2 linked regions of the Homo sapiens genome follow. The protein of the gene in region 1 interacts with the protein of each later gene in a pairwise test. Each region holds a gene or a part of one and is shown on either strand. Other genes may lie near its edges.

The links.
Region 2: the proteins of KATNAL1 (region 1) and COX17 interact in binary tests that used the Homo sapiens proteins (3 or more experiments, as listed by UniProt).

Annotation. Positions count from the first base shown.
Region 1 is NC_000013.11:30,202,114-30,206,564, forward strand, and holds the end of KATNAL1 (katanin p60 ATPase-containing subunit A-like 1), read right to left. Parts: 3' UTR 517-4,451; downstream 1-516. UniProt on the Homo sapiens protein: Regulates microtubule dynamics in Sertoli cells, a process that is essential for spermiogenesis and male fertility. Severs microtubules in an ATP-dependent manner, promoting rapid reorganization of cellular microtubule arrays.
Region 2 is NC_000003.12:119,674,387-119,682,198, forward strand, and holds the start of COX17 (cytochrome c oxidase copper chaperone), read right to left. Parts: upstream 3,021-7,812; 5' UTR 2,925-3,020; coding exon 2,818-2,924; intron 2,618-2,817; exon of another isoform or gene 2,581-2,617; coding exon of another isoform or gene 2,476-2,580; intron 848-2,475; coding exon 763-847; 3' UTR 759-762; intron 403-758; exon of another isoform or gene 22-402; intron 1-21.

The DNA of each region.
Region 1 (4,451 bases):
TACTGAATAATAATGCATCAACATCAGTTGATCAATTATAACAAATATACCACACTAATGTAAGATGTTAGTAAGAGGAGAAACTGGGGCGGGGGTTGTAAGTAAATGGGAGCTCCAAATTTTCTGCTCAATTTTTCTGTAAACATAAAACTGCTCTAAAAAAAATAAAGTCTATTAACTAAAAAAATTGTTTGGAGGAGGTCATAAAGTAAGACTTAGTCATCTAGAAAATGCACCATATGGAACATCTACTTTGCAATGGTGCTACACAAATAAGACAAGTGTATTGATTATGCCAGTTGGAATTAACTGAAAAAACACACATCTTACCTGCATCAACCTTGAAATTATTGGCATAAGCACAGCAAATACAAAATGTCAGGTTTATAATATGTGATTTTATGAGAACAAAAATCTGGGGAAAGCCATCCCTTACTAGTGAGGGGTTTGTTGCTCCCACTGGTGGCAAGAAGTGCACCCGTGACTATAGGTCAAAATGAACCACAAAGAAAGCGATGACAACCAACACTCTATAAATTTATTACCAAATATAACCTATGCACAAACACAGCTAAGCTAATGAGATTAGCAAAGTAGCAGCACAAAAGGTAAGGAAAAACACATTTAATAAATACAACTTGGAAACGTCTTTTTCTTTAAATTAGGTTCAAATACTGGGAGACAAACACTGAAACAAAAGTCTTAACAACGCACTTACAAGCCATCATAACATGCAGTGATCCTGCGAGACACTGTGTCCACTCACAGCCATGTTAACTGGGGGCCACTCCCTGCTGCCGTACCATCATATGAATATACATTTGTCAGTAAAAATGTGACAAAAATGTGATGTTTTTCCAGGTTTGTGTGTTTTCATAAAGTTACTCAGGTTTTTAGAGAATGAACATAGGAACATGTAGGATCCACAATTTTTAATGTCATCAGGTTAGTTTGTATTTACAAAACTCTAAGAAAATAGATGTGTGTTATGTTTGGAACTGCTGCTTTGAATGCAATACATCCAAATAATGAAGCTGACCATAACAAAGACGGGAAAAGTAATTCAGACATTTCACAGAGGCCTTATTTGGAATACAAACACTTTGCTAGAGAAAGAAAGATGGAATATTTTAAACAATTTCAAGATTAAAAAGAAAAGTTAATGGGAGGAGGGCAACAGCAGGAGGGAAGGATGTGCTTAAAAGAAACAAATCTGCATAGATGATGAACTGAATTTAATTCAATTCATTCCTGCCTAAAACTAAGCCTGGTTAACTGAGGTAGACTCTGGGAATTACACGTGCAAAGAGTCAGGTTTTCCAAAGGGCGATATTTTGTCATTTCAGATATGGTAAAGTAAAAGTGCATTTTATAGTTTCGAACAATCAAATGGGAGTCCTTTTATAAGAGGGAAACTTCTCTATACAAATTCCCTATTTTTTTGTGTCAAATTTCCATATGTACAAAAACCTACACACTGTTGGTAATAAAGCAATATCTAGGGTTTTTTTCATTTATTTTCTCAGAAAATGAGAAAGGTAAAATAAATTTTATGACATTACCTAAATATTTTTCCTGTTTTTATTAATAAGTCACTGGGAATTTAGAAATATCATTAAAGCTAAACAGTTGTCTGGAGCCAAAAAACCTAATAAAAATTCAAAGATCTATTTGTTAATGAGGTGAATGTTTAAAAATATATCTATTATCCTAATAATTTGATTATTAAAATACACAATTTCCACATTAAGAAACAAATATTAAAAGCAAATGTCAAAAAAATTTAAGTATGAAAAGCCTAATTTAAAAGTATAAATAAGTAAACTTACAATAATTACAACAGAGTTTTTAGCTTTTTCTGTAAAAATAGTTAGTGGAGATGACAGTAAAACATTCGAGGCTTAAATATTTTTACCCCCCTAACATGTCCCCTAAGTATAATTTCTGCTTTTTCCTATTGTGACATATTCTCAGGTTCACACAAATATTACGTGCATCACAAATTAAGTGGTTTCTTTAAAATATACAATCAAAACAGTTACGGAAAAAAAGATACAAAAAAGAGAATAGTTAGGATTTTTTCCTCATACAAGTTAAGGTGGCCTTTTCTTGGAAAAGGCCAGCATTCACCCTTAACATTTTATGCCTGTCATACAGAATATACCCTAAACTGATTTATCACTAATAAAAGTTATCTTAAGAGTGGGAATCCACTATTAGGCAAAGAAAGACTCAATAACCTAGACAATACTGAAGGAACCGAAGTCCACTCACACAACATGAAATACTTGCCTAGTCCTTCATTTTATCTCAAGTTAGGGTGGGGGGAAAGTGAATCACAGCTACCTCAGCTGGTTAGTGTTTTATGATTCTCATCACACATTTAGCAGTGTATATAAAAACTTATTCCTAAGGAAGGAATTCAAATGAACTCAAGCTGTCCAAAACCTAGAGTACTAATAATTTCATGTTCAACAGAGTCAGGCTATACAAAACAAAGTCAAAGAATGACAATCATACTGTAAATTTGGGTTGTACACACACATTTTCCCCTGATGTATGTGTATGACTGTCCATAGATTCACCAGGTATTGGTTTGCTTACTTTTTGAGTAATTCGTGCTTTCAGCCTATGTTTTGAGAGTGAAATATGACATCACAATCTCAGAAGCTGAAATTAAGCCCTGAGCTATACAGCTAGACCACCGCATGTTTTCCCCTTCCAAAATGGCTAGGTATTGTGGGAGGTAGTGGTCAGACCCGAAAGTGTGTAGATAAAGTCTGTGATGCCACCATCTATTGTCTACTTGGATCACTAGAAGGTTGCAGCTTCCATTAAAGAGGTGTTTATTTTACTAATATTAATTTCCTTTAAAAAAAGAAATTATGGGGGCAAAAGGTTTATAGTAAACATGTCATGCTTATAATAAACAGGCAGCTTGGGAAATGGTAAAAATTGTTCATTAAAATAGATCCATAATAGTTACACATTATTCAAATAAATGTATATCAGTTCTAATTTCAAAACAGATTTAAAGTGCAAAAAATAGGGGAAAAAAACTTTTATATATTTTTCCAAAGCACAAACAGATTACTATGCCTCTCCATCAGTGATCTAAACTCTTGTTTCAGTAGTAGAAGCCAGAAGCTATACAGAGTCGTTAGAGAAACTGCCAAGTTTGAACTGTACTCTCTAGTCCAGCTTTGTCTTGGTCCACAGAGCTCCTACTCACTGTGTCTTGGACCAACCAATACACGTCTACAGAATGAAGGGACTATCTGATCAGATATCTGCAAAGCAGACTTAGCTTAGTCCTACAGTCATTGTGCTGCAGAACTCAAAATACTCATGTTTTCAGAGGAATTAAAGGAGCCAAATATTTTTCCTTTGATAATGCATCTGCTACCGCAACACTGAATAACAAAACAAAACGAAGCAAAACAATTCAATCTCATTCTGGGTAAGGCAACACACTGTCTTCTGCAATAAAGACAGTCAGAGTGTGTGTGTGTGTGTGTATGTGAGTGTGAGTGTGTGTGTGATGTACATTAAAAGTTAGGGCTGGGCACAGTGGCTCACGCCTGTAATCCAAGCACTCATTCTGGTAAGGCAACACACTGTCTTCTGCAATAAAGACTGTGTGTGTGTGTGTGTGTGTGTGTGTGTGTGTGTGTGTCTCACGCCTATAAGGCAACACACTGTCTTCTGCAATAAAGACTCTGTGTGTGTGTATGTGTGTGTATGTGTGTCTGTCTCACGCCTGTAATCCTAGCACTCATTCTGGGTAAGGCAACACACTGTCTTCTGAAATAGTGTGTGTGTGTGTGTGTGTGTGTGTGTGTGTGTGTGTGTGTGTGTGTGTGTGTGTGTTGTATATTAAAAGTTAGGGCCAGGTGCGGTGGATCACACCTGTAATCCCAGCACTTTGGGAGGCCAATGTGGGCGGATCATCTGAGGTCAGGAGTTCGAGACTAGCCTGGCCAACATGGTGAAACTCTGCCTCTACTAAAAATACAAAAAAATAAGCCGGGTGTGGCGGCAACTGTAATCCCAGCTACTCAGGAGGCCGAGGCAGGAGAATGGCTTGAACCTGGGAGGCAGAAGTTGCAGTGAGCCGAGATCATGCCACTGCACTCCAGCCTGGGCGACAGAGCAAGACTCAGTCTCAAAATAAATAAATAAATAAAATAAAATAAAATAAAAGTTAAATAGAACACCTGAGGGATGTCTTTAAGATCCTTTAAGGGATTTAAGATATACAAAGCATCTACCATCCACTGACAGGGCAAAATGAGAAACAAGGGAAATAAAAAGCACACCTGACTCACTTAACATAGTAAAGTTAGGCTCCCAGGAAGTTTAAGTTGCCAAATACTGCTTAACTGGTATTAAAAGAATCACAATTACTATGTCATTATCCATGAAGAATTCAGAAAAATAATTAAATGCAC
Region 2 (7,812 bases), on another chromosome or scaffold:
TTAATTAAAAAAAAAATGGCCTGAGGCTTTAGTTTTATTCGAATAAAGCATGCTACAATTCCATTTTCATTTTTCAGAAAGCAATACTTCCGTGGGATACCCACTCCCTACTTAAAAGCATTTCTTGGCCAGGCATAGTGGCTCACACCTCTTAATCCCAGCACTTTGGGAGACCAAGGCAGGAGGATTGCCTGAGTCCAAGAGGTTGAGACCAGCCTGGGCAAGATGGTGAAACCCCATCTCTAAAAAACAACACAAAAAATTAGCCAGGCACGGTGGCCCACACCTGTAGTCCCAGTTACTTAGGAGGCTGAGGGGAGGATCACCTGAACCTCCCAGGTTGAGGCTGCAATGAGCTGTGATTGGGCCACTTCACCCCAGCCTGGGTAACAGAGTGAGACCCTGTCTCAAAAAAAAAAAAAAAAAAGCATTTACTGAAGTCCCACAATATTTATTAGAAACAAGAAAGAGAATATGTTTCTTTTAGTTCCCTCAGTCAATTTTCCTAAAGCCATGGGACCTAAAGGCTTTTGTCAAACCCTTTCTTAAAAGCTCAATTCTCCCCTTCCCCAATCCGCTAAATGACTGTCTTTACTGACATAATTTACTCCCTTCATTGGGAACTGAAAAATCATGGTTTTTTCAAATTGATACTTAAGCATTTTAGATTAACCAGGTGAACTACCTTTCAGAGAGAATGTAGCCCAATTGTTGCTAAATCTGTAAAGCAATACACAACTTTGAAGCAAGAAGCTTACCATTTCATATTTTAAATCCTAGGGCTCTCATGCATTCCTTGTGGGCCTCAATTAGATGTCCACAGTGTTCTTCTCCTTTCTCGATGATACTATAAAACAAAATGTACTTGTTATCTAAATATGCATTAAGCACATTATTAAGTATGCATGATAGTGATGGGGAGTGAGACAAAACACGGGTATAATGGAATGTAGCTGGAATTAAAACAAACGCTATTACCTCAAACAGCTTTGTTTTTATTTGATCTTATGATATGCCCATGCCTATGAAGACATTCCACAGATAAGTGATTTTGGGGGGGAAATCTGATAAGAAATAATCACGCATATTAAATATTGCCTCTAGTCAATATCCAAGGAGTAACACTGCTCTATAAAGAAATAAACTGAGTAAAATATTTATGCTAAATGAAGGGCACAGAGAACAGCTCAATTTTTTGCTTATTATCACAGAGAAATTAACTTTCTGATTTTGCCCTACATTCAAACACAACCAAATAAATCTACTTCTAATTACATCAAAAACATCTGGTAGCCAGGAGACCGAGATAAACACCCCCTCATGATGATCAAAGAATATTTTACTTGTAAAATTCACAAAGTAAAGACTAGGACTACACAGCTTTATTTCTAAGGCCTGAAAATGTGATTTTGCAAATAATCAAGTTAAGCCCAATTCAATTACAAGGAAAAACTGACTCCTGACTATGGATATTTGGGGAGAACCCACGTGGTCTGAGGCAATCGAGGCAAAGGGAATTTAACAAAGGGAATAGGTTCTCCTTCCATGGAAACTCTACCCATCCTTCAATAGCTCAAGAGCTGCCTGCAAATGGGAGATTGCCTGGGATAGTGAGATCATTGTGAAGATAATAGCTAGCATTCATTGATCATTTATTGCCATGTATACTGTGTTAGCCACTTGACATGGCTTGTATCATTAACCTTTACAATAATACTGGAGGGAGTTTCTTTTATTAGAGTCATTTTACAGACACATGAGGCTCAAGGTCACCAAGTTAGTGGATTAAGATTCAAACCTTGACTGTGGATCCCAGACTCTTAATCATGCTGTCATACCATTCAAGGTTCAACAGCACTTACTGTTACCACTGGAACAATTTGTTCAGACTAGTCTTTCAATCCTACCCGTATTATTTACAAAGTACTGAGGATTAATAAAAGCACTGAGCTCCTACACTCTTATTATCCCATTATACCACTAATGATTTCTTTCTTATATCTACTATCTGGGAAGACAAAAGGGGCCAGAGGAAGAGATGCACATTCACGTTATCTGAGGACGTCCTCTAATGAGATTTGCTCCACAAGAGAGGCTATATAAAATGAGAACAAATCTTTTGTGGATTGACAATCTAGATGAACTATTCTTAATACTTTGTCCCCTGCGTCGTAGACTGATTGATTTTCAACTTTTGGTTGTCTTAAAAGGGTTGAAGCGTAACTCTTCAGAACTGTAAGGAATACACTCTGTGTCCTACTGTCTCTAAATTTTGGGAGAAAGCCTTAGAAATTACCAGAAAACCTTTCCTGTTTGGTCTTAACAAATCTATCATAGCCCTTACCACGTCGTATACAAGTCACTGGTTTATGTCTCCATTAACTTTAAGCTCCTTTATATCAAGATGCATCTTTATCCATGTCTACATCTTCGGACCTAACGCAGTGCTTAACCCATAACAGATACTCAACACACATTTGTAGGAAGGAATGAGTGGTTGAAGCTTGCCGTTCTCCTCTCTCTCCATCGTTTCCCGGTACTAAGCTACGGGATAAGTCAACAGAGACCCGACCACGAAACCTACAAGGCCCAATAATTATCTCCAGAGCGCCGCAATGGGGCGGGGCGGGGCGGGGCGGGGGGGGGGGGCAGACAGGGAGGAGGAGTGGGGGAAGGGGGGAAGGAAGAGGGCAGAGGGCAGAAGGCAGAGGGCAGAGGGCAGAAGGCAGAGGGCAGAGGCCGTAGGGCAGAGGCACCGGAAGGCACAGGCCGCGGCCCGGGGCTCGTCGGCCGCGCCCTCTCCGGCTGCGCACTGACCACGCATCGCGCGCCTTCTTGGTCTCCGGGCAAGCGCAGCAGGGCTTCAGCGGCTTCTTCTCCTGAGACTCAGGCGGGGCAGGGTTTGAGTCAACCAGACCCGGCATCTTTCGCGCCAAAAGCAGCTATGAGCGGAGACAGCCAAATCTATGCCAGCCTCGGCAAACGCCGATTCGTCCGCAGTCACTTCCGGCAGTCGCTCTAAAAAGTACAGGAAGTCCTGCTTCTCTCTGACAGGTGGGGAATTTAAAAGGAGCGCGTGCGCAGAAGAGGCAAAATTCGGGCCTTAACGAGAGGGTGCCCCCTTCAGCGCATGCGCAAGGAGGCCCGCTGAACGCTCACCTGGACTGTGGTATTTACACTCTAGGACTCTAGGTCATAGAGTATTTGTTAAATCAACTTGGGGAGGGCTCACGAAGAAAGAAAGCAGCAAGACAACTGAGAGATCTCGTAACACCCGCTCCTCCCCACCCAATATCGAAACGGAAGCCCAAGATGGTGAAATGATTTGTTCAAGCCAAACAGGAGAAACCATAAGTGAAAGCCAGTTCCCTTGAATAACAGACTAGTTTCCCCCTTTTCTTTTATCCGCCTTCTTCCTGATCCCCACACACTGCAGGCCTTTCCTCTCTTTCATTGACCTATTTAAAAATGAATAGCAAGACATAGAACCACCGAGTCCACAACTATTGGGGGAATTTAAAAGGTCCTATAACCCCCTATACACCTCCTACGCACATTAAATCCTCAGCTAATTTGCATTTATAGCCCCCCTCCAACTGATCTGAATTCAGTATGAATTATTCAGTCATATATTCGTTAATATACTGATGAATAAAATTGAAAAATACCATTTCCATAGCATTTCCTCAGGTACATAGATAAACTGGTGCCCGTCTTATTCGCAATGAAATGGATATAATCATTGGATTTTTTTCCTGCAGAGTATTGTTGGAAACAGGCAATAAACTCTTTTTTATTTTATTTTATTTTATTTTTTGGAGATAGGGTCTTGCTCTGTCGCCCAGGCTGGAGTGAAGTGGCACGATCTTGGCTGACTGCAACCTCCACCTCCTGGGTTCAAGCAATTCTCCTGCCTCAGCCTCCTGAGTAGCTGGGATTACAGGTGTGCACCACCACGCCCGAGTAATTTTTGCATTTTTTAGTAGAGACGGGGTTTCGCCATGCTGGCCAGGCTGGTCTCGAACTCTGACCTCAGGTGATCCGCCCACATCAGCCTCCAAAAGTGCTAGGTTATAGGCATGAGCCACCGCGCCTGGCCAATAAAATCATTTTTTAAAGCAGGACTTGGAGGCACTGTTCAATAGCTGCAGGGTGATAGGTATTTTTAGGTACTTAAACTTTCAGCATCACCTAATCAAAGTTTGTTTCTATATTATAGATATTTAACTCAGGGAATTTACAGGCGTGTCTGTGAACTGGTGCTGTATAAGAGTAATTTCTATATGTGTATTTTTCAGGTTACTAAGACCATCCCCATTTTGTCATCTGAAAACTTTCAATAAGGATGATTTTTATTTCCTTCTGGATTGATATTTTTAATAATACAACATATTACCCTCATGTTCTAAATTCACCCTCATCCATTATTATCAATTCTTTCAACTAGGTGCTAACTCACATTGTTTAGAATCTTGCTAATCAAACAGTGCTTCCTGGATGAGCAATATCAACATCACTTGTAACCTTAATATACAATAAAATGTGGTTCAACAAATTATTGGGGAAAAGAAAATAGGCTAACCATCTGGAGAAAATTAAACACTACATTAAAAGGAAGAGCTCTAGATGCATTAAAGACCTAGATTGGAAAGATTGAAATATGAAATTAATAGCAAATTGTGGAGGAGAATATTTTAATACTGAGGGATGGGGGAATAACTTATGTTACATTTCAAAAGTACAAATTGCATGTCAAAAAAATTGAAGAAATTCATTACAGCAAAATAAAGGCTTGGGGTTTTACATACAATACTATAGACAAAGTTAACAAATAAATGATAGAATTGGGAGAAAATATTTGAAATCTACATATTTTTAAAAATTTTAAAAGTTAAAAAACTAATGTGTTCACTTAGAATATGTATTCAGTTGAAACAATGTCACCTTCAGTCGCAATATCTTCCATATATGTAGGGCTGTCGAGGTTGTGAACCATCATTTAATCTTCATGGCAGTCAAAATTATTATCTACATTTATAGTTGGGGAAAAATTGAAGTTCAGAGGTGTACATTTGTTCAAGGCTGCGTAACTTGAAAGTGGCAATCCTGAGTCTCATCATCTTCTCCCTGTACTCTGTCTACTATCCTACTTAATTTATCTAAATGCAAGGCAAGGCCTGGTGTAGTGGCTCACACCTGTAATCCCACACTTTGGGAGGCTAAGGCAGGCAGATCATCTGAGGTCAGAAGTTTGAGACCAGCCCAACCAACATGGTGAAAACCCATTTCTACTAAAAATACAAAAATTAGCCAGGAGTGGTAACCTGTAATTCCAGCTACTTGGGGGGATGAGGCATGAGAATCACCTGAACCCAGTGGGTGGCAATTTCAGTGAGCCGAGATTGTGCCACTGCACTCCAACTTGGGTGATGTAGTGAGACTGTCTCAAAAAAAATTAATTAATTAATGCAAAGCAAAATTTTTTTATTTTAAAACTAATCATTGATCTGTATTCACTTGTGCTATTGCATTTTTATGTATAGGAAATGAACAAGGAAGAAAAGGAAGATAAATATCTAACAGAGTTTAGAGAGCTAAGAGAATTGAGATAAACAGTAGGGACAGATAACAGACCCAAAGACTCAAACAGCTTTTCTGCAATTGAGAAGATTTTTTGGCCCACTGTCCCTCCTTGCTTCAGGGAAGAAAGATTACTGGTTGTGATAACACTGCCTGTGACTTCCTCAGGTTAGCTAATATAGGCAGGCCTCAGGCAAAGAAGTTGAGTAGCAGCCCTTTCTGCACCACACTTCTTTAACCTGCTGTGTTCCAGACATTTACAACCTTTGGTTTCCTTACTGAGTGCTGTAACCCTTAACACTCTTTCAACAACTGCTTCTTCAGGATGAAATATTCTCCTGACTTTGAAAAAAACAACCAGTGGCCTTTCCAAAGTGAAATATTTAGTCATTTATATCTAGCTACTAAACTATCCTCTTGCTTCAGAATGGTACAGCTAACCCACATATGTGGGTTACTTTTCCTTCTACCTTTTAATTTATATGAAGTAAGGTGGAGCGTGCTGGCTCACGCCTGTAATCCCAAGCACTTTGGGAGGCTGAGGTGGGCAGATCACTTGAGGTCAGGAGTTTGAGACCAGCCTGACCAACATGGTGAAACCCCGTTTCTACTAAAAATACAAAAATTAGCCAGTCGTGGTGGCAGGCGCCGGTAATCCCAACTACTCAGGAGGCTGAGGCAGGAGAATCCCTTGAACCAGGGAGGCGGAGGTTGCAGTGAGCCGAGATCACGTCACTGCACTCCAGCCTAGGCAACAGAGTGAGACTTTGTCTCAAAATAATAATAATAATAATTTATATAAAGTAAGCTGTAAGGTCAACTTTTGATTTTTATGTTATCACTATGCTTTTCTTCTTTCTCTATCATTTTTTCTTCTCCTACCCAGTCTAAATGCTTTTATACTCGTGGGATGGCCTGTTTCGGTATTAAAGGAAAGGTAGGAGTATATAACATAAGAAATTTATCCTTTCCCATTCTACCCCAACAAAAATCTTAATAGCCCACTTCCCCCAAGAAAAATAATTTTAGAGAGCTGTAATTAGAGTTTAAATTGACAGTAGGTGGCTGATGAATACCAAATAATAAAAGATAAAATTCACCCATCTGTCTTACAAAGGCAACTCTGAAATTAGTTTGATTCATACCTTTTATATCAAGCTCTTGCTCATCAATTTTGATTTTAACCAGAATTGGAGCTCTTTTAAACCTTTGGAATGCTTTGCTATTACTATAATTGCTAAATTAGCAGGCATTAAGACTTGAAGTGGTGACTGTAGTGGATTTTTTCATAGCACAGTGAATATGTTTATTGTATGTTATTGAATGGGGACATTAGCTACCAGTGGCACCAAACAGCAATTTTGTGGATGCATGACAGCCCTGGTAATGCCAGAAGCAACAACTGAGAAAGTACTTTCTAAAATCCTTCTATGATAAAGGTATTTTTAGCCATTTTTCAGGCCTAACTAATCCCAGGTGTGCCAGCTTTACCAAGTAAGGGTGAGTAGTTGTTGGTGGAGAAGGAGTGACACCATATGTTGAGAGATAAGAATTACAAGACTTAAATTCTCATTGGCCTAATGTACTATGTCTACTTTGTATAAACTAACTTACAAAAGTAAGTAAGGTAATTTTTGTCCTTATATCTGCCCCTGCAAAGGAAAAAATGCTTTCCAATTTCCACAGGTAAATATGTACTGTACATCGTTCTTTATAGCTGCAATTTTATTCAAATTGCCTGCCACAGTTTTATGAATGTTGGTTGTATTAGTCTGTTCTCATGCTGCTATAAAGAAATACCCAAGACTGGGTAATATAAAGGAAAGAGGTTTAATTGACTCACAGTTCTGCATTGCTAGGGAGGCTCCAGGAGACTTACAATCATGGTGGAAGGCAAATGAGAAGCAGGGACCTTCTTTACAAGATGGTAGGACGGAGTGAGTGCCAACAGGGGAAATGCCACTTATAAAACCATCAGATCATGTGAGACTCACTCACTATCACAAGAACAGCATGGGAGAAACTGCCCCCATGATCCAGTTACCTCCACCTGGTTCCACCCTTGACACATAGGGATTACAATTCAAGATGAGATTTTCAGTGGGGACACAGCCAAACCATATTATTGGTAGAAGCCTCCAAGCAGCTAGGTCACAGATGAAGGACAATTTATTACTTATAGCAATAGCAGCAGCAGAATATCAGCATTTTTATGCCAGTTCCCTGAGTTCC